7 linked regions of the Homo sapiens genome follow. The protein of the gene in region 1 purifies or fractionates together with the protein of each later gene. This does not show direct contact. Each region holds a gene or a part of one and is shown in the gene's direction. Other genes may lie near its edges. The genes, in order: CLEC12A, XPO5, STX5, VTI1A, GOSR1, DNAJC1 and GAS6.

Region 1 (4,277 bases):
GTGTCATTATTCTCTCTTCCTTCTCTGCTTTTCCTTTTTGGTGCACCAACATACTCTACTACTCACCAATATACTCTGCTACTCCTTTTATAACAAAACACAATCCTTGCTTGACCACTTAAGCCTTTCCATTATTATTTAACTTCTTTGTTTCCTTTCACAACTCAACTTTTGAAAGCATTTTCTTTGGCCACTGACTCTCAGTTCTTCACCTCTCATTCTGTTCTCAACCAACTCTATTAGGCTTCTGCCCCCTTGGTGCCATAGAGACTGAGCTTTAGGTCACTGATGTCCTGCCTGTTTCATCCCAATAGTCACATGTCTCTTCCATTACTTCACTTCCCTGCAGCATTGAAAAAGTTGAACAGTCCTCTAAATGCTTTCTTTGCACATCCCTCCTGACACATCCTCATGGCTTCTCCTGTCACCATGCCTGCCTCTCCTCATTCTTTGTTGATTCCTCCTCCTAGATGAAACTCTACAAGATGGAATACTCTGAAGCCCTGTCCTGGGTCCCGTTTTATTGCATCACTCAGTACACTCTTCTAATCTACCTCATTCAGTTGTTTGACTTTAAATAGAGTGACTCCCCAATATCTCTGTATGACCTTTCCCTGAATCTCAAGACTAGAAAATACATGTGCCACTTTCACATTTCCATAAGGAGTTCTAATCTCATTTTAAACTTAAAATGTCAAAAATAGTAATATTTATTTTTCTTCTAAAATTGTCTCTCTCTCCAGACAGCCTCATCTCATTAAATACACATATAAATATATATTTAAATACAATTTTCAAGTGTTTTCTCTGTGCCAGTTCTGTTCTAATTGCATTATAAATATTAAATTATTTAGTGTCTGATACTTTGCAGTCTTTCTGTCTCCCATGCTTTAACCATATTGAAACTCAGACACAGAGATGTTAAAAGGTGTTAAATAATTTTCCCGAGGTTTCACAAGCAATAAGCAGCAGAACCAGAATTCAAACCAAAACATACTGATATGGTTTGACTGTGTCTCCACCCAAATCTCATCTTGAATTGTAGCTCCCATAAGTCCCACATGCTGTAGGAGGGACATGGTGGGAGGTAATTGAATCATGGGAGCGGGTTTTTCCCATGCTGTTCTTGTGATAGTGAATAAGTCTCATGAGATCTGATGGTTTTATAAAGAGGAGTTTTCCTGCACAAGTTCTCTCTTGTCTGTGGCCATGTGAGATGTGCCTTTCACCTTCCACCATGAGTGTGAGGCCTCTCCAGCCACATGGAACCATGAGTCCATTAAACCTCTTTTTACTTATAAATTACCCAGTTGTGGGTATGTCTTTATCAGTCGTGTGAAAATGAACTAATGCAGTAAATTGGTACCAATAGAGTAGGGCGCTGCTGTAAAGATACCCAAAAATCTGAAAGAGACTTTGGGACTGGGCAACAGGCAGAGGTTGGAATACTTTGGAGGGCTCAGAAGAAGACAGAAAAATGTGGGACAGTTTGGCACTTCCTAGAGACTTCTTGAATGGCTTTGACAAAAATGGTGATAAGGCTGAGGTGGTCTCAGATGGAGATGAGGAATTTGTTGGGAACGGGAGCAAAGGTGACTCTTGTTATGTTTTAGCAAAGTGACTGGTAGCATTTTGCTCCTGCCCTAGAAATTTGTGGAACATTGAACTTGAGAGGGATGATTTAGGATATCTGGCAGAAGAAATTTCTAAGCAGCAAAGCATTAAAGACGTGACTCGGGTGCTGTTAAAAGCATTCAGTTTTATAAGGGAAGCAGAGCATAAAAGTTCAGAAAATTTGTGGCTTGACAATGATAAATAAAAGAAAATCCCATTTTCTGAGGAGAAATTCAAGCCAGCTGAAGAAATTTCTAAAGTCATGGGAAGCCAAATGATAATCGCCAAGGCAATGGGGAAAATGACTCCAGGGCATATCAGAGGTCTTCCCAGCAGCCCCTCCCATCACATGCCCAGAGGCCTAGGAGGAATAAATGGTATTATGGACTGAGCCCAGGGTCCCTCTGCTGTGTGCAGTCTAGGAACTTGGTGCCCTGCATCCCAGCTGCTCCAGCCATGACTAAAAGAGGCTAAGGTACAGCTCAGGTCATGGCTTCGGAGAGGGTGCAAACCCCAAGCCTTGGTAGCTTCCATGTGGTGTTGAGCCTTTGAGTGCACAGAAGTCAAGAGTTGGGTTTTGGGAACCTCTGTCTAGATTTCAGAGGATGTATGGAAATGCCTGGATGTCCAGGCAGAAGTTTGCTGCAGGCATGGGGTGCTCATGGATAACCTCTGCTAGGACAGTGCAGAAGGGAAATGTGAGGTCAGAAGCTCCACACAGAGTCCCCACTGGGGTACTGTCCAGTGGAGCAGTGAGAAGTGGACCACCGTCCTCCAGCTCTCAGAATGGTAGATCCACTGACAGCATGCACTGTCCACTTGGAAAAGCTGCAGACACTCAATATCAGCCCATGAAAGCAGCCATGAGGGAGACTGTACCTTGCAAAGCCACAGGAGCAGAGCTGCCCAAAGACATGGGAGCCTACCTCTTGCATCAGCATGACCTGGATGTGAGATATAGAGCCAAAGGAGATGATTTTGGAGCTTTAAGATTTGGTGCCCTTTGGACTTGCATGGGGCCTGTAGCCCCTTTGTTTTGGCCAATTTCTCCCATTTGGAATGACCGTATTTATCCAATGCCTGTACTCTCATTGTATCTAGGAAGTAACTAACTTTCTTTTGAATTTACTGGCTCATAGGTGGAAGGGACTTGCCTTGTCTCAGATGGACTGTGGACTTTTGAGTTAATGATGAAATGAGTTAAGTCTTTTGGGGACTGTTGGGAAGGCATGATTGGTTTTGAAATGTGAGACATGAGATTTGGGAGAGGTCAGGGTGGAATGATATGGTTTGGCTGTGTCCACACCCAAATCTCATCTTGAATTATAGCTCCCACAATTTCCACGTGTTGTTGGAGGGACCTCGTGGGAGGTAATTGAATCATATGGTAGGGGTGTTTCTCGTGCTGTTCCTGTGATAGTGAATAAGTGTCATGAGATCTGATGGTTTTATAAAGGGGAGTTTCCCTGCACAAGTTCTTTCTTCTCTTGTCTGCTGCCATATGAGGTGTGCCTTTCACCTTCCACCATGATTGTGAGGCCTCCCCAGCCGCGTGAAACTGTGAATCCATTAAACCTCTCTTTCCTTATAAATTGCCCAGTCTTGGGTATGTCTTATTAGCAATGTGAAAATGGACTAATACACATGCTAACCCTAAAGATGGTGTTTTGCTTTTTATCACTATGAGATACTGCCTACAAATGTGCATATCTACCAACTTTCTCTAAAGAAAAATTTCAGAAATTTTTGCAATAGATTTTAGCTTAGAAATGTATACTTAATTTATCCATGGGTCATCAAATTCCCTAGTACTAGCTAGTCAAACTTCTGTTCTCTTTCACATGTCATACTGTAACAGATTTCTTACTGATAAAACAACTCTGTTATTTTGCCCTCCTAGATTAAATTCTTCCAGTGGTTTCCCCAAAAATCTAACTTATTCTGGCTAGAAAAGGCTGTAAATAATGTCTCCTCCTTGTTATTTTAAAAACAAAACAAAAGAAAACAAATAAAACCTTTAACATCATTTTTCACATTGGCCACAATTCTTCTGCCCCTCTGAATATATTCTGTTTTTCAAATAGAAATCTTTTCCTTAAATTATTGTCTTTGAACTTCATGTAATTGCTACCTGTAATGTTCTTCCTACTTATTTTGCATGCTGGTTCCTATTCATAAGATTTGAACTGCCTGCTCTCTATAACAGCTTAGTTTTAAATCTCTGCACAACATCGCCAAATTTGAGATCTTTTCTCCCTTTCTTTCTTTCTCCCTGTCTCACTTATATATCTATTTATCTATTTCCTCCTACAATTAAAATTTATAGCTGTGAAAACAGGAACTTGTACATCTTGCTCACTTTGATATTGTTAGCACCCAGGATAATGTCTAATAAATACAAGGCACTCAAAAGATAACTTTTGAATAATTGAACTTTTTAATAATTGAATAAGTTCATTGAATAAATAAACTTGAATAATTGAATACACATATAAATAAGAAAATAATTTTAAGAAAGATAGCACTGGCATTTATAATTCTAATCTTAGATAAAATCTTGAACATGTAGTTCTTTCAGTAGTAACTATTTTCTAAAGTCTATATAAGTTAAGTTTTACTATTTATTAGTAATTGTCTCTGGATTTCACAATATTATTGCACCA
Region 2 (4,813 bases), on another chromosome or scaffold:
AACATTCACCTTGAAAAAAAAAACGTCTTACAACTGCAAAGCAGGAAGGTGAGTGGAAAGAAAAATAATTAAAATCAGAGCAGTCAAAGCATTAATTCCTTATAAATTCCAATCGACCACGCCTAAAACAGGCAGAATGTGATACTTTAAACATTTACAAGTTAAAACTATAACATGCCAGAAGTCCCTCTACTTTGAAGTGGCTTTTCAGTAGTACTGGAACAGACTGAGCCAACAAATAGTATTGTAACACAAAAAAACACAGGCTAAGCACCATATTAGATCCAAATACCAGAAGTGGAGCAAGAATAGGAAGCAGTGATTTATGTTCAGCACACAATTTACTAAGCACACAATCACAAAAACAGACATGCAGACTTTAACAGATAATAAAGCTGTTGAGGTTTTCCGTTTATGTATTTACTGGAGAAAGCAAGAGCTTTATTTATTTATTTTTGAGACGGAGTTTCGCTCTGTCGCCCAGGCTGGAGTGCAAAGGCGCGATCTCGGCTCACTGAACCTCCGCCTCCCGGGTTCAAGCGATTCTCCCACCTCAGCCTCCCGAGTAGCTGGGATTACAGGCGCGCACCGCCACGCCTGTATAAAAATACTAAAAATGCAAACATAATTTTTGTATGTTTAGTAGAAACGGGGTTTCACCATGTTGGTGAGGCTGGTCTCGAACTCCTGACCTCAGGTGATCCGCCCGCCTCCGCCTCCCAAAGTGCTGGGATTACAGGCGTGAGCCACCGCGCCCGGCCAAGAGCTTTATAAAGATGGAAAATGAAGAAGACTTTCTGCCCAAGCCATGCTTTTGGATAAGGATTACACTACTTTGAAACCTTATACATAGCACTTGGCCAATTATCAAAACTGCACAAACCTTCACTGATTGCAATTATTCCCTTTAAACATCTCGAGTTACCCCAATCCGCACAAAACAAGTTTAGTGCCCACCAGGTAATAATACATCCAGGAAAGTAATTCCAAGAGAGAGGTTTAACAACTACAGGGAAAAACATACTTTTTTCTACAAGAAAAATCTTAGAAGACAGTACCAGGGCCTTATCCCTGTTAGCATGATTTATATTTCACGCAACCTTGGCCCAGTCACTGCTACATTATAAAACCAATAGCCAAGGCAACATAGAAAGTCTGAACACAGTGACAGCGAACGGTTCTAAATTTTCTTACCAAGGTAACAAACACCTGGCAAAACTGCCAGCAGCGGTTGCCGAAAATGCTGGGTTCGGTGCCTACTGGAAGGAAAATGGAAGGGCTCCTGAATATCTTTTCGCCTTTCTAGGAGCGGTCCAGTGAGTTTCGAGCGAGATTTATTCCCTGTGACGACGGAGAAACCGAGAAGGGATCGTAAAGGATCCTGCCCGGGCAACCGTCCCCAGCAGGGATCAGACGAGAGCGGCGCGCCCAGCAATGCAGCCGCCAGACTGAGGTCTGACAGCGCGCCCGCTGCGAAGGGCCGTTGACGCGGCTGCGCACCGCGGCCCTTCCGCCTCCCGCCCCGCCCACCTAGGCTCAACCTGCACACGGGAGCCGCCACTTCCGCGGGCGCGTGCGCAGTGGCGGGCCGGGCGCGTGCGCAGCGCCGGCTTCTTCCCAGCGCGAGTTGCTGCTAACGCTCCTCCTCCAGCTTCCCACCCCCGCCGCCCGCCGCGGCCCGGTACCAACGGGTGGTCTCGCCGAGGGAGCTGTCGTGCCTCGTGGTCCCGGGACTGCAGTGGTGTGCGCTCTCGGCGCGTGGCGCTAGGCATGGCGATGGATCAAGTAAACGCGCTGTGCGAGCAGCTGGTGAAAGCGGTGACGGTCATGATGGACCCCAACTCCACCCAGCGCTACCGGCTGGAAGCCCTCAAGGTAGCTGGGGTCCTGGCGTCCTGGGCCGGTCCCGACACCCTCTCCCAGCCCCAGCAGCTCCGGCGCCGCCTGTAACTGGGGTAGTCTCCCGCCCACGCGGCCCCTGGACCTCCTTTCCCAACTCCCCGGGACCTTCCCCTCGCGGCCCTCCGCGCCTCTCCCAAATCGCCGCCTTCTCTACTCGCCGCTCCTGTCCTTTGCCTGGGACACTCCGGTCCCTATGCTGCTTCTCATCTCGCCGCAGCTTCCCACAGCCCTCTCCTCCCCCTTTCCTCGCTTCTGTGCACTCTTGTCCGCAACATGACCCTCGCCCATTTTCATTCCCCAAGCCCGACATCCCCTCGCCTTCCCGAGGCGCACGTGTAGATCCCGCCCCCAACACCAGCTTCGTTCTTTATGGTCTCTCCTGCACTAAACGTTTTCCTGCTGGCCCACTCCCCTGGCCCTGACCGAGCTCCAGCCCCTCTGGTACCCTTATGCTTATATGCTTTAACATCTCGCTAACTTTCGTTTGTGTCTTGGACATTTTCCGGGGAAATTCTCGCACCCCTACTTCTCCCATGTTTTTGAGTGTAATATTTTTAGGCTATTTTGCGCAAAGATAACTTCTACCACTTACTTTGCATTTTAACAAGGGCACTTTGGTTTCCTGAAAGTAGTTTGCGTGAGACCCGAATGCTCTGCTCTTGGGACTGACTTATGTTGCAGTTTGGGGGTGTTAATACAATTCAAGCTTACTTGCCCATAAAACAACGTGTGTGGGCTGTGAGAAATGGCCATTTAGGAGAAAATACTTGTGCTGTACATTTTTAAAGTGATGTTAACTTCAAAAAAGAGAGTGACCACCACTTGGAGGAAATGTTACAATATGTAGATGTCTGCCACAGGGTTTGGAATCAGAAACAATTGGGTTCCATTAGTTTGGTTTTTATTATTAATATTTAAAATAGACACAAAAGTGGAGAGAATACGACAGTGATTCTGCATGTTCCTGTCACCTAAATTCAGCAATCAAAGATTTTACCGCATTTACTTTTTCCACCGCCTATCCTCTCTCCCTGCCTCGAAGGTTTTTAAAAGAAACCCTAGAAATTGTTATTTCACCCCTATGTACGTCAGGGGGATGTCTCTAACAAATAATTTCTTATTCCTTTGTGTCCATTTTTTTCCAACACTAGTAGGGCTACTGTTGGCCGTAGCATGGAAAAAATCTGGAACCATCACGCTGGAAGGAATGTTTATCAGTTCTTTATTCATAATATATATATAATATATACACATAAAATAGAGTGAACACCACTTGGAGGAAATGTTATATATGTGTAACTTTTATATATTTTATATTTTTATTTTTATATTAAATATATATTTTTAAAGCAACTGTGCTTGGAGATCCACATAATATTGATCTAGGTTTTGCAACTTTAAACATATAGCTTAGGTTGGAGTTTCTTTTTGAGTAGGGTCTCACTCTGGTTGTCCAGGCTGGCGTGCAGTGGTGAGATCTCGGCTCACTTCAGCCTTGATTTCTCGAGCTCAAGTGATTCTCCTACCACTTCAGCCTCCTGAGTAGCTGGGATTACAGGCACCTGCCACCATGCCCGGCTAATTTAAAAAAATATTTTTAGTGGGCCGGGCACAGTGGCTCACGCCTGTAATCCCAGCACTTTGGGAGGCCAAGGCAGGTGGGTCACCTGAGGTCAGGAGTTCAAGACCAGCCTGGTCAACATGATGAAACCTTGTTTCTACTAAAAATACAAAAATTAGCTGGGTGTGGTGGCGTGCACTTGTAGTCCCAGCTACATGGGCTCAGGAGGCTGAGGCAGGAGAACTGCTTGAACCTGGGAAGCAGAGGTTGCAGTGAGCCGAGATCATGCCATTGCATTCCAGCCTGGGCGACAGAGTGAGACTCCGTCTCAAAAAAAAAAAAAAAAAATATATATATATATATATATTTAATAGAGATGGGGTTTCGCCATGTTGCCTAGGCTAGTCTCAGACTCCTAGACTCAAGTAGTCCACCCATCTCAGCCTCCCAGAGTGCTGGGACAGGTGTGAGCCACCGCACCCGGCCCTGGTTGGAGTTTCTTAAGATGAAATTCTTTTAGTCCCTATTCTCTCAGCCCTCGAAAGGAAACACTAACTTTTCTTCTTTCAGTTTTGTGAGGAGTTTAAAGAAAAGTGTCCTATCTGTGTCCCCTGTGGCTTGAGGTTGGCTGAGAAAACACAAGTTGCCATCGTCAGACATTTTGGCCTTCAGATCCTGGAACACGTTGTCAAGTAAGGAGCTCTTGGACATTACCACTGAAGTCTGAGAGAACAGATCTTTATATCTTATATAACCTATAGAGATGCTGTTTAGGTGAGTAGAGAAGAGCAATCTCCAAGAAGAGAGGAATGATCCCCTAGATGTTATCAGAACCTCACAGGAGCTCTCATTCAAGATTTAACCTTTCTTTTCTTCAGTTTCTTCATCCATGTAAAGTGTGTGGTACATATTACCCATTCAACAAATATTACCTGCCATTTAGCCAATACTTACTGAGCTCTGACTATATGTCATTAGCCCTCGAAGCCTTTTTAGAGTAATGCAATGTATAGGTCAATGAATCTCTGATTAGGCACTGTGGCTTTCTTTTTTCTCTCTGTCTTTCTGAGTTTGTGTGCCTTCTCTGGGTGGTACATCCAAAGCAGGATTGTATGAGAATAACTGAAAACCCATCCTAACTTGATTGTCCTACCCTCAACACCTATCAGAAGAGGTAGCCTTTAAGACTTAGCCATAGTTTTTCCAGAATTGTTTTGTAAGCCAGCACAGAAAATGACTGATGTCAAAACTGCATTTTCTGAAAAGCAAGTACATTGTTGCAGTTGACCTAGATGTATATTCACTTTTGGCCCATCAATAAAATCATGAGGCAAAGCTGACGTGTGGTAC
Region 3 (4,277 bases), on another chromosome or scaffold:
ATACTCTGTCCTAAAAAATAAAAAATAAATAAAATAAAAACCACACCCGGTTGGCTGGGCATGGTGGCTCATGCCTGTAATCCCAGTACTTTGGGAGGCCAAGGCGGGCGGATCACAAGCTCAAGAGATCAAGACCATCTTGGCCAACATGGTGAAACCCCATCTCTACTGAAAACAGAAAAATTAACTGGGCGTGGTGCTGCGTGCCTGTAGTCCCAGCTACTCGGGAGGCTGAGGCAGGAGAATCGCTTGAACCTGGGAGGTGTAGGTTTCAGTGAGCCGAGATCGTACCACTGCACTGCAGCCTGGCAAGAGAGCAAGACTCCATCTCAAAAAAAAAAAAGACACCCAGTTATCCTATCTGTTAGAATTAACTATTTCCTAATATGTGATATCCAGTGAGGGTTTACATTTTCCCAGTTGTCCCCAAACTGTTTAATAGCTTTTTAAATATTAAATCAGAAAGCCAGGCATAGTGGCTCACACCTGTAATCCCAGCACTCTGGGAGGCCGAGGCAGGCGGATCACCTGAGGTCGGGAGCTGGAGACCAGCCTGACCAACATGGAGCAACCCCGTTTCTACTAAAAACACAAAATTTGCTGAGCGTGGTGGCGCATGCAGGAAAATCACCTGAACCCGGGAGGCAGCGGTTGCGGTGAGCCAAGATTGCGCCATTACACTCCAGCCTGGGCAACGAGCGAAACTCCATCTCAAAAAAAAAAAAAAAATTAGCTGAGCGTGGTGGCACCTGCCTGTAATCCCAACTATTTGGCATGCTGAGGCAGGAGAATCTCTTGAACCTGGGAGGCGGAAGTTGGGTGAGCCGAGATCACGCCGTTGCACTCCAGCCTGGGCAACAGAGTGAGACTCTTATCTAAAAAAAAAAAAAGGAAGAGTCCCGGGTGCGGTGGCTCACACCTGTAATCCCAGCACTTTGGGAGGCAGAAGTGGGTGGATCACCTAAGGTCGGGAGTTCGAGACCAGGCTGATCAACATGGTGAAACCCATCTCTGCCAAAAATACAAAATTAGGGCGTGGTGGTGCATGCCTGTAATGCTAGCTACTTGGGAGGCTGAGGCACTAAAATCACTTGAACCCAGGAGGTGGAGGTTGCAATGAGCCAAGGTTGTGCCATTGCACTTCATCCTGAGCAACAAGAGCGAAACTCCATCTCAAGTAAATTAATTAAATTCTTCCTCTTTTCTGAGCATCGCTATAGGCTTTAATTATAGGTTTTAATGTATTGGTTGTCTTATTATTAGTTAGGGCAATGATTATTGTGAGTGCTCAAGTTGTTCCAAATATGTCTGGTGGGAGCCTAGAGGGTTTAAAAGGCTGAGAGAAAATAAAGGTATGTTAGCATGCCAATGGAAATGATGCAACGGATAAATTTAAAAATGATAATATAGGAGAAAGATGGGAGAATTCTTGAAATGATGTCCTTGAGAAGGTGAAAGGAAGTGGGCTCCGGGGCATAAATCAAGGCTTGGCTCTAAGAGGAGCTGGCGATAGGTGGGAAGACAGAGGCTATTGTAGCAATGCTCGGGGTGGAGCGGCATTTATCTTCAGACCACTTCAGTCTTCTCAGCTCATTAAGAAGAAAAGCCAGTAGAGGAGAGGAGGTGTAGGAGGTTTTAGGAATCCACTCCTGCCCACTTGATCTTATCCCTTTAGCAGGGTCCAACCCTGATTGATCTTTATTCCCCACGGTATCTAGCAGAGTGCTTTTACTCTACGTTGTTGATCATGTGAAACTGAGTGAACACCTACATTTGTATAAAGCCGGTTTCTGAACATCAATCCACTAAGCAGCCTCACACATTTAACTGGCCAAGGTAAAAGAAAACACTTGGAGATTCTGATTCGAGAGATGTGAATGGAGTGGGCTTTTCAGGGAGCTTCATTTTTACAAATTCCATAGGGGGTTCTGATGAGCATCCAGGTTTGGGAACTACTGATTAAAAGAAAGTTTGTTTATTCAACTACTATATGTTGAGCACCAGCCATTTATAAGGTACCGTGAGTACAGCTGTCTTGATCCTAGAGTCAGGAGAATTGACTGATTTTTTTTGTTGTTGTTTGTTTGAGACAGTCTCACTCTGTCACCCAGGCTGCAGTGCAGTGGCATTATCTTGGCTCACTGCAACCCCTTCCTCCCAGGTTCAAGTGATTCTCCTGCCTCAGCCTCCCGAGTAGCTGGGATTACAGGCATGCACCACCATGCCTGGCTAATAATTGACTGATTTTTTTTTTTTTTTTTTTTGAGACGGAGTCTCACTCTGCCACCCAGGCTGGAGTGCAGTGGCAACCTCCGCCTCCTGGGTTCAAATGATTCTTCTGCCTCAGCCTCCCAAGTAGCTGGGACTACAGGCACGAGCCACCATGTCCGGATAATTTTTGTATTTTTAGTAGAGATGGGGTGTCACCATATTGGCCAGGCTGGTCTTGAACTCCTAGACCTCGTGATCCGCCCACCTCGGCCTCCCAAAGTGCTGGGATTACAGGCGTGAGCCACCGCACCCGGCCTAATTGATTTTTATCTATTTCAGCTGAGACCTAGGGAACCCCTTGCAGAATTATGCCATAAACACCATAGCTCCCTGAGCTATGTTGTATTTTGAATATTAGAATATTAAGTCTGGGCGTGGTGGCTCACGCCTGTAATCTCAGCTCTTTGGGAGGCGAGACAGGCGAATCACGAGGTCAGGAGATCGAGACCATCCTGGCTAACACGGTGAAACCCCATCTCTACTAAAAAAAATACAAAAAAATTAGCCGGGTGTGGTGACCGGCGCCTGTAGTCCCAGCTACTAGGGAGGCTGAGGCAGGAGAATGGCGTGAACCCAGGAGGCGGAGCTTGCAGTGAGCCCAGATCACGCCACACGCCACTGCACTCCAACCTGGGCAACAGAGTGAGACACCGTTTCCAAAAAAAAGAATATTATAGAGTCAGTGAAACAGAATTATAAAAGATATGGAGGGCCAGGCGCAGTGGCTCATGCCTGTAATCCCAGCACTTTGGGAGGCCGAGGCGGGCGGACCACCTGAGGTCCAGAGTTTGAAACCAGCCTGACCAACATGGAGAAACCCTGTCTCTACTAAAAATACAAAATTAGCCAGGCATGGTGGCGCATGCCTGTAATCCCAGCTACTCTGGAGGCTGAGGCAGGAGAATGGTTTGAACCCGGGAGGCGGAGGTTGCTGTGAGCTGAGATCGCACCATTGCACTCCAGCCTGGGCAACAAGAGCAAAACTCCATCTCAAAAAAAAAAAAAAAAAAAAAGGTATTTGAGTTCTTTCCTCAATCCATATACATCTAAAATAAAGTTATAGCATATAGGCAACTTTACATTCTAGTCTTCCTTGAAACAGTGTCATAAGTATTTTTCACTGTTAGCATGTGTTTGCTCATTGGTTTAGCAAACATTTGTTGCTGCTGTGAGCTAATCCTGCTGGGTCTGAGGATAAAAGGGTGAAAGACCATTCTGGTCCTCCTGGAGCTCACTAGTAGGAGAGACATAAGTTGACAGTGACAGCTCAGTATGATAGGGCAAGAAGAGAAGGGGATGAGGCTGGGTGTGGTGGCTCATCCCTGTAATCCTAGCACTTTGGGAGGCCGAGGCAGATTACTTGAGGCCAGCAGTTCAAGAAAGCCTGTGCAACACAGAGACCCCGTGTCTATTAAAAAAAAAAAAAAAGGGATGAGAGAACTCAGAGTAGGTACTGCTCCTAGATGGGGCCAAGGGGCCTTCCCAGAAGTGATACCAAGCTAAGACTTGGAGGGAATGCCAGCCCAAAAAGGGGAAAGGAGAAGCTGTTCCATGTGAGGAAAAAACAGCACAGAAATGAGAAAGAACTTGGTAGATACAGGAGTGCAGAATTATTCAGCATGGCTGGGGGAGTGGTGAGAGGCAAGGCCAGGTCACAGATAACCTGTGTGTCACAGCAAGAAATTTGGTGTCAGGGAGAGAACATAAGAAGAAGCAAGCGGATTGATGCTGGGTGAGAATTAGGTTTGTTCTGGGTGTGCTGAGTGCCTCAGACTTCATGGGACAGCTAAATGACAGAGTTTAGTAGGCATTTCATGTTCTGATGTTTGGAAGAGAAGGCAGTGCTAGAGGTAAGGACTTAGGACAGTGGCCTCTTGGTGAAACCCTGGGCATAGACCACCCAGAGACTGGGTAAAGTGAAAAAAAGGTCAGGACAGATCCCCCATGGAGTCAGGGGGTATGTAGAGAAGGGAAGAATCTGGCCAGACTGAGGAGGAAGGTTGAGG
Region 4 (4,277 bases), on another chromosome or scaffold:
GCAAAATCATAGTAGTCCAGTGATGTTCTTATATCAATCAATTATCATTCAATAAATGCTTATTATTGTTGTAGGCTAGTCACTGTGCTAAATATTGTAACTGAATTACCTTATTGAACTCTTACAACAATCTCATGATATAGTACTATTATTATTATTGTACCCATTTATGGATAAACTGAGGCACAGTGAAGTTAGCCACACAGCTAGTAAGGGCCAGCACTGGGATTTTGGGTCAGGCAGTGTGAGTTCACAGCCAAAGCTCTCAATGTGGCCTAACTACTGCTCTATATTTTTAGGGTGTCCTTTAAAAAAAAAAGTCTAGCAGTGTGCATATATGAGCCAAATAACTACCATGGTGACTTCTTACTAACATCATTAAATTACTTGTTATTATTATAATAGATGCTTGTTTGAATGCTTATATGTTTATAAGCCAGAGATGATTGTTGTTATAGGTATGAGTAAAGAGACAATGCAAGAGGGAAAAGGAGAGAGAGATGTAGAACAAGGTAGTCAGATATTGCCAAGATTATAAGAGAGGCATCCTTCTAGTATGGAGTAAGGCACCTCCCAGGTAATGGGGAATGAGTCTGAAAACGATTTATTCAAGGCAGCTGGTTATTTATGATGTCAAGCCATACCTACTGTCTTCTAAAAGGGTCTACGGCTGGAGAAGAGACTGCCTAGTGTCAACCAAATAAGATGATCATGGCAAGAGAAAACCTCATTAGAACTCAGCAATGTGACTTTTTAAAGAATGTTCTAAATTGCCTATAACAGTATAAGGGTTTCAAAGTTCTGGGGTGAAAACACTGTCTCCAGCATGAGCTCTCTTCAACTACTTGAGAAGAAATGCACCTCACCTTGAGTTGACTCAAGTACCTACAGCCACTGGTAACACGTTAAATGAGCCCTTGCCTTGAAGAGAGCAAAAGCCTAGAGATAGTTCACTACCAATAAGCTACAGTAGGTGAGCATATGAGGATTACTTATGCAGGGTGAATACACTAAAATTAAAATTGTTCTAAATGGAGTCTGACATACATATGCAAAATGAAAGGGGAAAGGGAGAGCAGAATCATTAACATTACTAGTAACCTGTAAAAACCAACAGCTAAATTCCATGATGACAAAATAGACTAATGGACCTCAGATCTTCTCCACCTTTGCTGATATTTGCTGGAGTGGCCTGGACAAGACATCATCTCTAAATCATTATTTTCATGTTGGTTATGTTCTATAGGTCAAATATCTAATTATGCCTAAGATAAATAGATAAATTTATCAAATACTGTTTATATTTTTCAAATACATGAATTGAAATATGTGTCTGATGTATAATGCATGCATGCAACTTTAACATTTTATGCCATTTTAGTATTTCTGAGATTTACTCTCATATGCACTCCAAGTCATTTTTCCTCACTCAAATTTTCTTTTCCGTAGAGCAAATTGGTCAGGAGATGTTGGAAAACCTTAGTCATGACAGAGAAAAGATACAGCGAGCACGTGAAAGAGTAAGTACAATTGATACAGTTTTTTCACATATTCAGTAAATGAAGACATAAATGAAAGGCATTGGGACATAAACAATAGCAATTAGGTAGATATATGTGTGTAAGGTGAAAGAGGGTATAAGGTCTGTGGAAAGGAAAAGGAAGAGGGTGAGATGGAGCAAATAGCAGCTGACTCTATGTCCCCATTCCAGAATGTTCCCAGGTAGGTATTTTATTTACTTCTTATAGAGGAGAAGGTCACTGAGGGAGATTTTGGAGTATGTTCATCTTTTAGAGTGAAAACTATAGAATTATTGGTGGTCATCTTTCCTCACTTCATTTTATTTTTGTTTATATGTTTTTAGGACTTTGCACATTCATAAGCTGGAGATGAATTACCAAATGTATATGAAACTTTTTCAGCCTGTGCTTTGCTTTTATGTCCAGTTCTAGTATCCAGCTTAAAGCTCCCAAGATTACCTCTCACGTGTCATTCTCCAAATTTAAGAATTTTCCAAGTTTGTGTAGCTGTCAGAATGTATTTATTTTTGTGTATTTGAACATTTTTATTGTTTGGATTTTCTATCATGAAATAAATTGTCGCTTGCCATGCACTTTAGAAATAATCTAATTGCATGAACTTCTGTTTTGTTTTGTTTCTTCTTGTAGCTTCGGGAAACAGATGCTAATTTGGGAAAAAGCTCCAGGATTCTGACAGGGATGTTGCGAAGGTAAGAGCAAGGTAGGGACATATCTTTCTCTCTGTGTGTTTTTTTAAAATACTATGTTTTCATTCAATTGCAATGGGGCATATTACATGCTTTTGAGCTTCTGCTCTTAGTACCCTGTGCAGGACCCATTTGAAATAACAGAGCACTGATGTTAACTCTTGTTTGGACAGGGACACATACTAACACAGATTAGAGAGAAGGCTTGAGCTAGGGGGGTAACCTCAAGCTATGGAAAAAATTAGGGTTAGACATGAAGTATTTTTTCATAGCCTGAGGAAGGCCCCATGGGCAGCAGCAGGCTGATTTTATTTTCTATTTCGATGGCCTTCTTCTTATGGAGGGAATGCAGACCTACCATTTTCAGGAGCACATTTGCCATTAGCTTTGCTCTCTGTTGCCTTGTTTTCATTTCTTTAAGTGACGCTGTTTGGGGAAACATTTCCGTTTTATGTATATACTTAAAGATGATTTATAAAACGTCAAGATTATCTGAATAATATGTGCTAAGAAACAAATGTTCATGTTTTATATGTGTAACTCTACCTTGATTGATGGAAAATATGCTAAATAGTATGAGAAAATAGATGAATGAATGTAGGTAATGTTCTTATAAGTACATTCAGCACGAAATTATTTCACATTCAGAATCTACCACATAAAAATATCATCTAGCACGACTGTCAGTTTGGAACTGTGGATAGAAAAGTGAACGAGAAACATTGAGAATGGCCTCTGGAATGGCTTAACTGGAATTTTTAAGAAGGAAATCTTTATAGTTGATACTATAGAGACAACCATCTAAAAATAACTAAAGTCTTGTCTGATCACATATCCATATACAATAGTTTGCTAAAAGTATGTTTGCCGTGTTACAGACTTATTGCATAAGAACCAATCAAATGTCTAGTGGTTTGGTCTTCAAGGCTGATAACATTTTCTAAGCAGCCTGACCAGTAGCAAGCCTAAAGTTCCTGGGACATTTCCAGCCAAGGCTAGTATAATGTGACATTTCCCCTCATTTCCTTGAACCCGACTCCCAACTCAGAATCATAAGCCATCAAATTCTGTGATTAAGAGTACTATGTAAATGGCCTAAGAAAAACTCAGAATTCAGAGAGAAGGGTAGTAGCAATTGAAAGGAATGCTTCAGTGCCTATAGACAATAAAAAAGAAAGGAAGGGGAGGGAAAAACCTCTGTTGCTTCCCTGGGAGGGCTCCTGCGTCGTGAGCTGTAACGAATATTCTGCATATGTCTCCATTTTGTCAAATCTCATTAAAGAGTCCTCCTGCTTTATGTCAATTGAGCTGTCCAGAAATCATTCATCATTTTTAGTGTAAAAAAAATGATGTGGTTATTTAAATAATATCATATTAATGTTAAAGTTCAGCTGTCATTTAATGGTATGGCTTAATCAGATGTAGCATTTAGGAAAAATAGTTTATGCGGGCTCTACGTGGCTTTCAGGTTGGCAGATTCAAATAAGGATTTATGGGTTTCGAAACCAATGTATTTCTGTCCATGTTTCTGCTTGATCTACCTCACCCTTTAGTGCGGGACACTGCAGACAGTTATTTCAACAAATAAAGCATCTTCTCATATTGTGTTTGAATAAATTTGCAAGTCATTTAGAGAGGGTGAAGCACAAACAACTTCTGCAACCTTTGACTGGGCTTTCTGTAGGGAAATCATAATAACGTGGTTGTTTCAGAAGCCTACGGAAGAAAATTACTCTGGTGAAATCTACATGGGGTTCTCTTTGTAGGCAAACTCAGTCAATCACTGACTCATCTTCTTTTGGGATGTGTCTAGAGTATGAACAGAAATAAAAATTCCCAGATGGACATCACCTTGCTACATCTGAACCAAGGGTATGCTTAAGTCCACCTGTTCATATGCATGACAATGTTTTTCACTAGGCACAGCTGGGATCTTGGTATCAGCCAGGATATTCAGATATTTTCAACCAATGCCATAACGTGGCAGGTTTTCTGGGGACCAAATGCAGTGGTTTTAGTTTCTAATTACTGCCGCGTATGATATACAATG
Region 5 (4,277 bases), on another chromosome or scaffold:
CATAATGACACCAAAGTTCATTTGGAATCATAGACATACAAGAACAACCAAGAAAAACAACCTGAAAATGAAGATAAGTGGTAGAGGGTTCCTAGTTCTACCAGATCTTAAAACCTGTTAAAAAGCTGGAATAGTTAAGACAGTTTGATACTAGAGAAAAAAAATAAATAAATAAAAACAATTAAACAGAGTTTATATGTAGACCCAATTATGTTTGGAAATTTTTAGTTTCTGATAAAGATGTTGTTTAAAATCAGTGGGGCAAAGAGAAATTATAAAATAAATGGAACTATAACCATTGCTTAATTATTCAGAGATTTTAAAAAAACAATTCTATCTCAATCCTCACATCCAGAACAAATTCCAAATGGATCCAAGAAGGATAGAAAAAGAAACCATAAAGCAGAGGTGAAATTTGTAAACTTTGGAGCAGAAAGGACTTTCTAAATAAGACTTGATACTGGAAACCATAACGAATGGCTAATTTGCTTACTACACAGAGATATAATAGAAATAAGAAAAAGACAGTAGGAAAATGGACAAAGGATATAAAATTGCTTACAAAAAAATGAATGGCCAAAACTATAAAAACATTTTCAGCAGTATTTCCAAATAAAAATACAGAAATCTAAAAGAGGTGATTTTTCACATGTCAGATTAGCAAATGTTGAAACATTTATAACCCATTATTGGCAAGAGTAAAAATTTAAAAAGGGTACTCATATATTGCTGGTGGGAACATAAATTGATGTAATGTTTATAGAAGGCAGTTTAGCACTACCAGAATTTAAATGAATGTGAGATTCTTTGATCCAGTTATTCTTTTTTTTTTTTCTTGAGACGGAGTCTCGCTCTGTTGTCCAGGCTGGAGTATTGGAGTGCAATGGTGCGATCTCGGCTCACTGCAGCCTCCACGTCCTGGGTTCAAGCGATTCTTCTGCCTCGGCCTCCCGAGTAGCAGGAACTACAGGTGTGCGCCACCACGCCCAGCTAATTTTTGTATTTTTAGTAGAGATGGGGTTTCATCATATTGATCAAGCTGGTCTTGAACTCCTGATGTCATGATCCACCCACCTCGGCCTCCCAAAGTGCTGGGATTACAGGCATGAGCCACCGTACCCAGCCCTGATCCAATTATTCTATTGCTAGTCATTTACTCCTTTTTTTTTTTTTTAAGCTCTGTTGAACTTAATAGACATTTACTCTTTAAATATACTTTTTTTTTTTTTTTTTTGAGACAGAGTCTCACTCTGTCACCCAGGCTGGAGTGCAGTGGCGCGGTCTTGGCTCACTGCAACCTCTGCCTCCCGGGTTCACACCATTCTCCTGCCTCAGCCTCCCGAGTAGCTGGGACTCCAGGCGCTCGCCACCATGCCCGGCTATTTTTTTGTATTTTTAGTAGAGATGGGGTTTCACCGTGTTAGCCAGGATGGTCTCCATCTCCTGACCTCATGATCCGCCTGCCTTGGCCTCCCAAAGTGTTGGGATTACAGGCGTGAGCCACTGCGCCCAGCCTAAATATAGTTTTTTTTAAAATAAAAGAGTTCAGTTTAAAAAATATATGTAAGAATGTTTATTGGCAGTATTTTTTTTTTTTTTTTTTGAAACAGAGTCTCGCTCTGTTGCCTAGGCTGGAGTGCTGTGGTATGATCTCAACTCACTGTAACCTCTGCCTCCCAAGTTCAAGTGATTCTCCTGCCTCAAACTCCTGAGCAAAGTAGCTGGGACTACAGGTGCGTTCCACCACACCGGCTAAGTTTTGTGTTTTTAGTAGAGACGGGGTTTCGCCATGTTGGCCAAGCTGGTCTCGAACTCCTGACCTCTAGTGATCCGCCCACCTCAGCCTCCCAAAGTGCTGGGATTACAGGCATGAGCCACCCTGCCTAGTCTTGCAGTATTTTTAATAGCAAACAAAATGAAAACAACTAATGTGTTTATCAGTAGGGAATTTATTAAATTGTGATAGTCATAAGATAATATTCTATGCAGCTATTAAAAAGAATGATGTAGATTTCTTTTTCCTAATATGGAAAGATTGCTTGATACTTTATGAAGTACAAAAAGCAAGGTGTACATCAGAATGTATATTATGACTTACTTGGCAAAGTGAAAGAAATAATAGATAAGCTTGTATATGTAAAAACATATTTCCTGGCCAGGTGCAGTGGCTCACGCCTGTAATCCCAGCATTTTGGGAGGCCAGTGTGGGTGGAACTGTTGAGGTCAGGAGTTCAAGACCAGCCTGGCCAACATGGTGAAACTCCATCTCTATTAAAAATACAAAAATTAGCTGGATGTAGTGGCACGCTCCTATAGTCCCAGTACTAGGGAGGCCAAGGCACTAGAATCGCTTGAACCCAGGAAGTGGTGTTTGCAGTGAGCTGAGATGGCACCACTATACTCCAGCCTGAGCGACAGAGCAAGACTCTTGTCTCCAAAAAAAAAGAAAATAATAATTTCCTGGAAGAAAATACAAAATGATGGTAACAGTTATGAGGTATGGAGCAGAATGTTTTGTTTTCCTTTGTTTCACCTTTATTTCTTTTGGTGCTCTTTTAATATTCTCCTCCATGTTTATGTGTTACTTTTGTTTTTTAAAAGGTCAACAGGGACTCTGGGAGACAAGATTTTGATTTTCTTCTTTATCTACATCTCTGAATTTATGAAAAGTAATGAAGTACTTTTAACAGTGGTACAAAAATAGTAGAAAATGTTTAAAGATTATTTTGTTCCTTATAATTCTCTTGATTCTGTTCTTTTTTGTTTAGGAATTAAATTTTTTGTGAGAGCTCCAAAATGATGAAATTTGAAAATAAGCTCTATTAAGTATACTACTAAGTAAAAAGAGCCTCTCAAGTTTTCTCCTAGACTATTTGAAGTTATTTTATCTCAGAATTTTTTTCTTCTTAATTCTGCCTCGTAAGACAGAGTACTAGGAGGTACAAAGGATAGTGATTTAATGGCACTGTTTCCCTAGCACTGAATTATTTTCACTTGAAAGAAGTTGGTCACTCTTCAGGAAAGTAATTTTAAAGTTATTTTTACCTTTGGTTAATTTGATTTCTTAAATAGCAGTTTTCTTGACAAATTTACAGTGTGATGACGATACATAACTGGTTCAGTGAGATGAAAATCCATAATTAGCTTCTGTTGAGACTGGATGTTGATTTATTACAGGATTATACACATGAATTCCATAAAACCAAAGCAAACTTTATGGCAATACGGGAAAGGGAGAATCTTATGGGATCAGTACGAAAAGATATTGAGTAAGTTACTTTTTATATTATTTTGTAGAATATTTATTCAGATTTGGCTTTAGGATATGTTCACGGTTAATTGCAAATTGAGTGGCAGAACCGTGGTTGAGATTTTAGGGTTTCCAATTCCCATTTCACTGTCTTTTTAACATTGCTGCTACAATGTCATCCTAATCTACTTTTCCATTTTTATCTCATGCTTCCTCTTACTTTATCATTGGCTCCTGCCAACCTTGACTTTCCTGTCTTAATTCAAAGTCCAGCTTAGGTGGTTCTTCATGGTTCTCTGATCTCTTACCTCCCACCCTAAGAATTATAATGTTACTTTTATGATCCTCTGCAGATGTGTCAAAGAAAAAAAAATTCTTTAATTGTAACATTATCAGTAACTGAAGCTCCCTATGTTTCTCTTCCTGATTATCACCTATCCCCTGGCCCTCTCCCTTGTCCCAACAGTTACATATTACAAACAGTAATATGTACAAACTCACTCATAGCCTTATGTTAAATTATTTAAGGACTCCCAACATTCTCATACTGATCTCAATCTATAATTTTAAATATTTGTTTTTTTCTTCTGTCCCTTCACCTCACCTTTAATGATCTATTCTAGCATTTCATAGCATTTTTGGAAATTTTTTTACAACTGAACACTACTGACAAAGTTAAGTCCCATGGGCGTCTCATTGAAGCTGAAGATGTTCCAATTTGGAGCCATCTAATGATACCTGTCATCATCTCATTTGTGATAAATTATGTGATACATTTTATAAACTATGATACACATTTATGGTAAACTGTATATTATGTGTACTCTCGAAAACACTTTCCTAGAGATCCTTTATTTTATTGTAACAGTAACAGTTTCAACAGTAAGATTGTTGTAATATTTTTAGTCCTTCAGGACATTTAAGTCTTTTGTTTAATTTCCATGTAGTCCATTTATATATATGTTTTGAGGAATGCATTGGGAACCCATATAGGGGATGGTCTTTAATGTATAGACACTGAGCCCCC
Region 6 (4,915 bases), on another chromosome or scaffold:
ACAAGTGTCATTGGAGCTGGGCAGCATGAATTTTTGAGTAATACCTTATGTCCATGAGAAGTATTATTAATAGAATCCAATTCTGTTTCAGCATGGCCTTAGAAAGAGGATGGGCTATCTTTAGATGGAGTAAGTCCCCGAGGTTCTCAGACAACATAAAGGTAAAACTCAAAAGGGAAATACTAGGCTGTCTGCTACAAGATCGGGGTAAGAATCCCAGATTTGTGGCAATATGGCACCAGTTTCAAAGGTTTTATTGCACTTAATCTAATGATCAAATTAGGAGAAAAGATGAATGTTACTATAATATGTAAAAGTAGTGCTTAAGATCATTAATTTCATCTTATTTCGATGTTTTGTTCATTGAATAAACAGTAACCTAATTTAGGGACTTGGTAAAGATGACGTTCACTTTAAGAAAACTGATATAACCAAAAATAAACTAGGCTGGGGGTGGTGGCTCATGCCTGTAATCCCAGCAGTTTGGGAGGCTGAGGTGGGTAGATCACATCATGTGAGGTCAGGAGTTTGAGACCAATCTGGCCTACACGGTGAAACCCCGTCTCTACTAAAAATACAAAAAATTAGCCAGGCATGGTGGCAGGAGTCTGTAATCCTAGCTACTCGGGAGGCTGAGCCAGGAGAATTGCTTGAACGTGGGAGGCAGAGGTTGCAGTGAGCCGAGATGGTGTCATTGCACTCCAGCCTGTGCAACAAGAGCAAAACTCCGTCTCTAAATAAATAAATAAATAAACTAAAAATCTGTGGTAGGGGGAATGGTGGTAGGGAGGTAGTCACAGGATTCAGTTCAACTAATTGAGTGCTCTCATGTGCTATGCATTGTGCTAAGCACACAATAATAAAGTCCACACAAGAGAATTGTGGTGGAGAAAATAACTTGAAAAGAGCTTGAACAGAAGCAATGCAAGACTAGAAGGTGAGACATTGTTATGGGAGAGGAGGTTTTTAGCCTGTCTTTTAAAACAGAAACATCTCAATTGAGGTCTGTTTTCAAAGGAACCCCAACTGGAGGTGGGCTAAGGTGGATAAACTACATTTCTCCTCCAACTATGATTGAGTCACCATTATTAACTGTTAATTCTACCAGGTCATTTTATGGTATTATGCCTGTAAATCTTAATTCATAATTAGAAGTATACTTTTTGTTTTGGTTTCAATTCCTTTTCTGCTCTACCTCTCTCTACTTACTAGATTTGCCCCTTTTAGAACCTGGTTCAACTTGTCCTGTCTTCTTTGCTGATGGACTAATTAAATGCATGGAAGCCATAATCAATTAATCAGGCTTCAAATATGCTTTTAGTGTTCGATAGCTAGGGGAGAGGAAGACAGTAGCTATTTCAGGGGAAGTCCACGTGGGGCGTTCCAGATGGACGCGAGATGGCTATAACCGTCCCTGTCTCTCAGCCCATGTGGGCGCAGGTACAGCTGCTCCGTGCGCGCCAGTGATTGAGAGGCATTTCACCCAGGCCCAGATCTGGGGCGCCAGGCGTCCAGGCTTCCGGCCACGCCCCCTTCCCGCGGTTGCTAGGAGACATGATGTCACCGGAAGCGAGGCCTGGGATAGGCTGAGGCGAAGGGAAGCCTCACCCACTGTGCAGCCCAGGCGCCGGGCGCTGCCTCTACAGCTGTGTGTAGGCCTGGGGGCGAGGGTCTTCGGAACGTAGCGCTGGCTGCGGCCCCGCCCGCCTACCCACCCGCCCGTCCGGCAGCCGGCTCCCGCCGCCTCCGCGCTCTGTCTGGGGCCAGCCACCTGGCGGGCCGCTCCGGTGCGCCTGCCCGCGCTTTTCACTGACAGGCGCTGTTCCCCACAGCCAGCGCCGCCCGCCACGTCCCAGCTCTCGGCCAACGGAGCTGCGCGGCGGGTGACCTTTCCGAGCCCAGCGCGATGACGGCTCCTTGCTCCCAGCCGGCGCAGCTTCCTGGACGCCGCCAGCTCGGGCTGGTGCCGTTCCCGCCGCCGCCGCCGCGGACGCCGCTGCTGTGGCTGCTGCTGCTGCTGCTGGCCGCCGTGGCGCCGGCGCGCGGCTGGGAGAGCGGAGACCTGGAGTTGTTTGACTTAGTGGAGGAGGTGCAGCTCAACTTCTACCAGTTCCTCGGGGTGCAGCAGGTAAGCAAGGAGGCGCGCGGGGCCGGGCGGAGAGGGGCCAGGGCAGGCGTCAGGCGACCCGGTTCCTCAGAGACAGCCGGACACGTAGGGCAGGGCTTGGTCACCCCGGGCTCTGGCTGCCCTCAGCTCGGGTCACCGGGGTCCTCAGCCTTGGAAGGACGTGTCCGTCTTCCCCAGATCTTTACTCCTGCTTCAACTTTTCTAGTCCCAGCCCCAGTGACAGGCTGGACGGCGCCACTAGCCTAGGGTGGCGATGCCTTCTCTCTGCTCCGGCGTTCTGGGGAAGAGCCTTCCCCCTCCAGCTGTGCTGGAGGAAGAACGAAGAGTGGTGTGGGTAGACTTTTTTTTTTTTTTAATTTAACACCTACCTTTTGCCTTCCTGTCCCCCTGAATGTGAGAAAGAGCAGCCGCTTCTCACCCTAAACTGTCATCTTCCACCGATACTTACCTCATCCTTATTCTTATTTCAGCTGCCTCCCCTCCTCTTCCCTTCTGGGAAAGTAGGAATGCACTGTGGCCAGTGTCTGTGTTGCAAAAGTTTTTCTTACTTTGTACTTCGTCATCTTTTTAGCCTGTTAGGTAGATGTTTGTTTCGCTTTCGCAGTTTAGAAATCTGGAGGAATTTGAAGCGTCTAACCAGGTTGGAGGTGTTAAGTTTTTTGAGCAGCAAAGGACTTGGGATGCGATTGGAAGAGAAGCCCCCGGTCAGTAATGTAGGAATGGGTTTTTTTTTCCCCTTTTCCTTTTGTTTCATTTCGTTTTCTTCTATAGCTTAAGACATTAACTTGTAAAATCCATTTGTTGCTTTTTAGTTCTACCATTGAGGGTGGTTGAGTGAGGGTAGATATCCAGTCTCTACCTGAAGCCTTGTGCGAAGGAGAAGATAACATTTCGCTGATTTCAGGCTTATGGGGTGAAAAATGTACACTTCACACGATCTGATTGAGCCCTTCGTACAATGCTTTGAATAGTTATGGGAGTAAAAAATTAATGTTTACGATAGTTGCCATTCAAGGCACACTTCACATGACTAGATATGAAATGCACATCCCCTTCCCCCATAGGTTATCATAAATGTGGGTGAACTATTGAACTTTTACTGAATTTTAATTTTCAGACATTGCATTTTCATTCCATCAGTGAATATAAAATTGCTGGGTTGCCAGGGTACCATGAGTGAAACAATTTTTTATTTTTGTAAGAGTTATAAAGTATAGGCATTTCACACTTCAGATTCATATGTGCAAGCAACTTTGTAATAACTATATTTATGATCTGTTGCCTGGTGCCCCTCCCTGCTTATAGATACACTATATATCTCATTTTCAAAGCAAATGATGGAGTATGTGTAAAAATAATTAGTGAAGCTCTGATGACTTTTAAGAACTACTTTAATACTGGGAATAATTAGAATTTATCATTGATTACATTCTGTACGTAAAGAGAGTCTTAAACATAATCTATCCAGAAATCTTGAAGATCCAGTTATTCATGAAAAATTAAGTGCCTTTAAGAGAACAGAAATTTAGTAGCAGTTTAAAATTTAGATCATGTAATCTAGCTTTGCATGTGAACACTCATAGAATTTTCATTTATAATTTCATGTAACTTGATTTGCATAGTTAATTAGGCAGTGTGAACAACCAGAGCACTTGACTCTCTGGGCAAAGATGAGAAAATAAAGAAGCATAGATAATCAAGAAGATTCTTTGTCAAGGTAGAATCCGAAAAGAAGGATCCAGAAAATTGTTTTAACCTGTGTTTCTCTATCCAGCTGTATTAAAATTGGAAAGAATGCCAGGAGGAATTTTATTCTGTCCAAGCAGAGAAACTGAATGGAACAAGTTTTTTTCTTTACATTGAATCTTAACTTTGTTAGATGACTTTCAGGGACCAGAAATTTGGTGGAGACAAATGCAACCTGTCCAGGGTCTTTCATGTGTAGTTTTCAAGCCAGAGCCATTTGGTGACTAGCCAAACATGAGGGACCAGAACAAAGTAGGTAGGCTGCTGAAAGTGGTGACCTGGCTCTGTGCACTAATCTCTTCTTGTTCACGCAACAGAGATTTGTTTGGTGCCTATTGGATTTTAAGCATTGGGAGTTGACCTTTATATAAAACAAAACCCCTAAGCTTATAATTCAGTAGGGAGAAACAGACAGTAAACAGCCAAGTAAGTAAATATAAATGTTATATGGTCAGAGCAGGCCTCTGAGAGAAGTTAGGGAGTAAGCCATGTGGGTAATTGTTGTGTTGTAGGCCATTTGGGCTGCCATAGCAAAATGCCATGAACTGGACAGCTTTTCAACAGGAGAACTTGATTTCTCACAATTCTGGAGGCTGGGAAATCCAAGATTAAGGCACCGGCAGATTCTGTGTCTGGTGAGGGCCTTCTGGTCATAGATGGCACCTTCTTGCTGTGTCCTCACATGGTGGTACGGGCAGGGCAGCTCTCTGGGGCTTCTTTTATAAGGACACTAATCTCATCCATTAGGACTCCACCTTCGTGATATAATCACCTCACAGAGGCCCCACCTTGTATTACTGTCACAATGGGGATTAGATTTCAACATAAGAATTTCGAAGGACAAAAACATTCAGACCATAGCATGGTAGAAGGACATTCAAGGAAGAGCAGACAGTAAGCACAAAGGCCAGGAGGCAAGAGCTTGCTTAGCGTTTGAGGAATAGCAAGGCAGGCAGTGTGGCTGGAGCAGAGTGATCAAGGAAAACAGTAATGGGAGAACAGCAATAGGAGACAAGATCTGAGTCATAGGTGGTAAGGGAA
Region 7 (4,277 bases), on another chromosome or scaffold:
CTCCTCTGAGGGCCGTCTTCCGTGCTGGCTCCGCAGCCCTCTCCTGTGCCCGCACCTGTGCAGATGCTTGTTTTCACCCGGGCGTCTGCAGGCACTTGGTGCCAGGCTCCTCCGGGGCTTTCTCAGAGGCAGCCGAGTGCCAGGCCCTGCACACGACACCCTCACCCGAGCCGGAGAGCTTCACATCTGTGGAAAACTCTAATTAAAGACGTTTTGAGAAACGCTGAACGTCTCCCTTTGTTATTTAGGAACAAAACACTCTTTTAGGAAGCAAGTGCTTATGGCTTCTTTCTTGAGATTCTGAGTAAAGGGGCGTTAAGCTTGCTAGCTGGGGCATGCTGAGCACTTCCCAGGTTATGGCTTTACCCCAGAGCGATTGACAGGCATCCAGGTTTCCTCATGCTTCATTTTCCCCTGTTTTCTAAGGTTAAAACTGAGAGCTGTTTCTCCAATGCAAAGCTGCTTGTTTAAGGGTTTCGTATTTGATGTTGGAAATGCTCTGGACTCTTCCATGGTTTTTATATTCCAGTGATTTCACTGCAAACCTGGTGTGTACGCCTTGTAAATTTTGACCCTGGCCAAGTGAAAGGTTCATTTTAAAAGTTTTAAAATAAATTTTAAAGGGGAGCTGGAAGTGGAATAAGTTAAGAACAGTATCAGTTTTGCCTTTCACTCTGACAGAGGCACTCTCTGCTCTGACTGACGGGTGTTGATTAAAAGTATAATATTCAAAAGAAATAGTAAAGTGCATTGGGCCTTGTTAATGTTCTACTAATTTTCTGGGGCTCCGTTTTCAAATTATAGGTGAAATTTTTTTCCTTCCAGTGTTAGTGCCTATGATAAGAAAATACATTTTCTCCACATCTGTCCACAAACCTGCTAGACCCTGTTTTGTGACTACCTCCCCTTGGAACTTGGGGCTCCATGGAAAACACACAGCTTGACCCAGCCAGCCCTCAGAGAGCCTGGGCCGGTCACTGCAGTGGCTGGATTCTCAGCATAAAAAGGCCAAACGTTCGGCCAGGCTGGGACTGGCTCCCATCCAGGACCAACTGTCCACAGTACAGTAAGGCCACTCTCTGAGTCAACATTGTTTCTTTTCTGAATTGCTAAGTTGACCGTCCCTGCAGAAGCAGAGAGGGCTGCGGTGTGGCATTCCTGCCCACTCCAAATGAGGGCAGCCCGGACGCGGGAGCTCTCAGGGAGGCGCAGTGGGCTTTGGGTGTGTCTGGACTGTCTCCACCACACCTGGAAGATACTGTTCACTTCCTTTTTACACTTGTGGGAAATACATGACAGTGTTTACGGGCAGGCTGGCTTTCCGTTTATTTCAACCCTGACAATTGAATAGCAGCAGCAGATGATGAAACTGTTCACTTCCCGATCACTCCCGTTCTCAGATCCATCACTTAGCTCGTCCGTCGCTCAGCTCGTCTGTTAGTCTGAAAGATGAATCGTGCACGGGTCCTCCTGAGAGTGCTGTTCTCGGGGTCTCCATGTGTGAAGTTGTTACATCCTCATGACAACTGTGTAACAGCTGTCACTGAGCCATTTTACAGATGTGGAAACTGAGGCCCTGAGAGGCTGTGGAGGGCTACAGTGTGTCCTGGGCATTTGAGCCCCACACTCTGTCATTAACTCCTGTGCTCGCTGGGACTGGGGGAGAGCAGGACGCGGCAGCACCCCCGGCCCCACTGTGTGCTCCTCTGTGTGCAGGCGACTGTGAGCATACTGGCACCCATGTGAGGGCTGAGTGGTGCTGGTGTGGGCGCATAAAGCACAGGGCGGCTGCGGGGAGCTGGGTGTGTGTCAGTGGCTCGGAGCATTAGTCTCGTGAACATGGTCTGCCAGGTGCGTCATGCTGGGCTACAGAGCCCATGGCTCCACCATAAATGGTGGTTTTGTGTTTGAACTTGAGTGTTGCTGCTCAGTGAGGCCAGAGGAAGGCACCAACCTGCAGGCCTGGCCGGTCCTCACAACACGGAAGGCAACCAGTCCACTAGAGAGACATGTGTCCCGGCCACTGGAGGAGTCCAAGTGACCTTTAAGTCTCACCAGTCCTCAGAGCAACCCAGGTGAATTTGGGGCCTGAGCTTGGTCGTCTGGCCGAAGACCAGCTCAACTTGGATAAAGCTGGAGGAGAAGCCTGTCCCTCAGGCAGCTGCCAGGGCATCTGTGATTTCTGCTTGCGTGCACTCTTGGCGACTATTGGTGGTGGTCGCAGTCAGGGCATCTGGTTGCCTTTACTGTCCTTACACCAGCTGGGCAGAGCTCAGGCTGGGAGCCCAGTGGGAGAGGCCGGGGCGTGACTCCCGGCGCAGAAGCGGCAGTGGCACACCGGCGTCCCAAGCACAGCTGTCCCTGCCAGGCCCCTGCGCGTTGGATCTTTGGGTTGAGTCATGCTCGATGGTGCAGCCATCCTTTCAAGGGAACTGAGCTGTCCAGCGTCCCATGGAGCAGCTCCCCGTGGATCCGGAGAGGCCGTAAATAAACCTCCCCATTTGTAAGCCGGGAACACACATGAACTTTGCAATCGTGTTTGTCCTGGGATCATAGAACGTGGTGGCTGGCAAGACCCAGGCATCCTCATCCTGTGCTGCTGTGAACAGAGGCCGGTAGCTTATTGAGGGACCAGTCCCAGTTCGCTTTCTGTGGGGAAGACTCTGATGGAAGCCTAGGCCCCAAACTCCAAGGTTAGCACATCTTCTTGGGGGGATTGACACCTCCAAAGGTGAACTTGGGTCCAAGGCACGTGTGTGCGACCTGAAGCATGGGTGCCGTGTGCAGGAGACGCCCTCACCGGAGATGGGGACCGAGTCCACACGGCTCTAACTGCAGAATCACTGGCCCTGTGCCCACGACTATTTTATTTTGCTGTTTTATATGATCACAAAGTACACTGTCTTGTTTTTCCCAAAGCATTTGCAGTGAGACATCCCACTTCCTCTCCACGGCAGCTGTTGCGGGCACGAGGCTGCTCCCAGGACAGCGATGCCACCGGGGCTGGGGTGGGCACGGAGGAACCCTCTTCCTTCCTCCTCCCCGCCCTCTGCTCCCCCACAGACTGGCCTGTCTTTAGTCAGCACTTTCCCAGGCTCCCTTCTGCCCACCACGTGCAAACAGTGGCGTGTCCTGGGCCTCTCTCCTTGTAGTGTTTCTTGTGGCCAGCATCCCTCCCATCCAACAGCTGTGTGGCTTCCTGACTGGCTTCTCTCAGGGCCCGCAAGGATGCTGCCAAATGGCCAGAGACAGTCACTGCTCTGCACTTCAAAGCAGGCAGCCCTCGGTGGGGCTTGCCCTGAAAGACAGCGGGCCTTCCTCGATGAGAGCCTGTGCTGGCTCAGGGCCTGTGGGGGCTGCAGCTCTGTTCCTTCCCTGCGTCCACGCTCACATGCTGAATGTTGTGCACCACAGGACACCCTGCTGGGGGCTGTCGGGAGCATGCTCTGTGTTTGGGGCAGAGACGGGCAGAGTGAGTCTCAGCATTACTGCCGTGCAGGGTTGAGTCTCAGCATGACTTCCATGCAGGGGGAGTCTCGGCGTCACTGCCATGCGGGGCGAGTCTCGGCGTTACCGCCGTGCAGCTGCTGGAAGCCACTCGAGCTCCTCTGTCTCGTTTGCCATGAAGCCCATGAGAGACACTGATGTGTGTCTCGGGGCTTCTGTGAGAAGAGCTTGGTTACCCACCGGGTCAGGCACCACGTCGGTGCTGTGAGGCATGGAGGGTGCTCACAGCTGTGCAGTCAGCTACAGAGGCCTTTCCCAGCATCCACATCTGACCGGGCAGTCACACCAGGATGAGCTCCCAGGAAGAGGGCTCCCAGCAAGGGAGGGCGCACCTGGGTGTGAGCTTGGAGGAGGGCAGAGGCACCTGTCACCGCTGACCCTGGGTGCAGATGGGCATGCCGGGTATACTGACTGTGCTTTCCTGGGGCCTGTCTCCCTCCAGGTCAGCCTGGGGTCCTCTGGGCTGGGGGCCATGCACTGCCTCCTGTGGGCAGTGGGATCAGCACTTCCACTTTGCTCAGGGCTAGAGCAGGCTGCTGCGGGTGTGAAGACTTAGGAAACGAATTCGGAAGGAAGGAAAGGATTTTGCACTTCCCAAGCTAGAAGAACATGAATAGAGCCGGGCTGCCAGGCCAAGGGTCTGTAAGACGGCGGCTCTTCAGAGAGTCTGCAAATGCTGAGAAAGGAAGGCTCCCCAAGGGCAGTTCCTGTGGGCGTTACTCTGAGTTTTCTCATAGAAGTCAAGTTCTTGGAAGACAGCACTATGGTCA

What was found.
Region 2: the proteins of CLEC12A (region 1) and XPO5 purify together in Homo sapiens (affinity purification with mass spectrometry; 4 studies listed by BioGRID and IntAct, with this or other methods). This does not show direct contact.
Region 3: the proteins of CLEC12A (region 1) and STX5 purify together in Homo sapiens (affinity purification with mass spectrometry; 3 studies listed by BioGRID and IntAct, with this or other methods). This does not show direct contact.
Region 4: the proteins of CLEC12A (region 1) and VTI1A purify together in Homo sapiens (affinity purification with mass spectrometry; 3 studies listed by BioGRID and IntAct, with this or other methods). This does not show direct contact.
Region 5: the proteins of CLEC12A (region 1) and GOSR1 purify together in Homo sapiens (affinity purification with mass spectrometry; 3 studies listed by BioGRID and IntAct, with this or other methods). This does not show direct contact.
Region 6: the proteins of CLEC12A (region 1) and DNAJC1 purify together in Homo sapiens (affinity purification with mass spectrometry; 4 studies listed by BioGRID and IntAct, with this or other methods). This does not show direct contact.
Region 7: the proteins of CLEC12A (region 1) and GAS6 purify together in Homo sapiens (affinity purification with mass spectrometry; 3 studies listed by BioGRID and IntAct, with this or other methods). This does not show direct contact.

What each region holds. Positions count from the first base shown.
Region 1 is NC_000012.12:9,973,823-9,978,099, forward strand, and holds part of CLEC12A (C-type lectin domain family 12 member A), read left to right. Parts: intron 1-4,277. UniProt on the Homo sapiens protein: Myeloid inhibitory C-type lectin receptor that acts as a negative regulator of myeloid cell activation. Myeloid cell inhibition is required to limit proinflammatory pathways and protect against excessive inflammation.
Region 2 is NC_000006.12:43,572,822-43,577,634, reverse strand, and holds the start of XPO5 (exportin-5), read left to right. Parts: upstream 1-1,596; 5' UTR 1,597-1,770; coding exon 1,771-1,875; intron 1,876-4,033; coding exon 4,034-4,155; intron 4,156-4,813. UniProt on the Homo sapiens protein: Mediates the nuclear export of proteins bearing a double-stranded RNA binding domain (dsRBD) and double-stranded RNAs (cargos). XPO5 in the nucleus binds cooperatively to the RNA and to the GTPase Ran in its active GTP-bound form.
Region 3 is NC_000011.10:62,811,081-62,815,357, reverse strand, and holds part of STX5 (syntaxin-5), read left to right. Parts: intron 1-4,277. UniProt on the Homo sapiens protein: Mediates endoplasmic reticulum to Golgi transport.
Region 4 is NC_000010.11:112,666,769-112,671,045, forward strand, and holds part of VTI1A (vesicle transport through interaction with t-SNAREs homolog 1A), read left to right. Parts: intron 1-1,449; coding exon 1,450-1,520; intron 1,521-2,168; coding exon 2,169-2,230; coding exon of another isoform or gene 2,231-2,234; exon of another isoform or gene 2,235-2,241; intron 2,242-4,277. UniProt on the Homo sapiens protein: V-SNARE that mediates vesicle transport pathways through interactions with t-SNAREs on the target membrane. These interactions are proposed to mediate aspects of the specificity of vesicle trafficking and to promote fusion of the lipid bilayers.
Region 5 is NC_000017.11:30,486,949-30,491,225, forward strand, and holds part of GOSR1 (Golgi SNAP receptor complex member 1), read left to right. Parts: intron 1-3,177; coding exon 3,178-3,269; intron 3,270-4,277. UniProt on the Homo sapiens protein: Involved in transport from the ER to the Golgi apparatus as well as in intra-Golgi transport. It belongs to a super-family of proteins called t-SNAREs or soluble NSF (N-ethylmaleimide-sensitive factor) attachment protein receptor.
Region 6 is NC_000010.11:22,000,426-22,005,340, reverse strand, and holds the start of DNAJC1 (dnaJ homolog subfamily C member 1 precursor), read left to right. Parts: upstream 1-1,610; 5' UTR 1,611-1,906; coding exon 1,907-2,128; intron 2,129-4,915. UniProt on the Homo sapiens protein: May modulate protein synthesis.
Region 7 is NC_000013.11:113,853,693-113,857,969, reverse strand, and holds part of GAS6 (growth arrest-specific protein 6 precursor), read left to right. Parts: intron 1-4,277. UniProt on the Homo sapiens protein: Ligand for tyrosine-protein kinase receptors AXL, TYRO3 and MER whose signaling is implicated in cell growth and survival, cell adhesion and cell migration.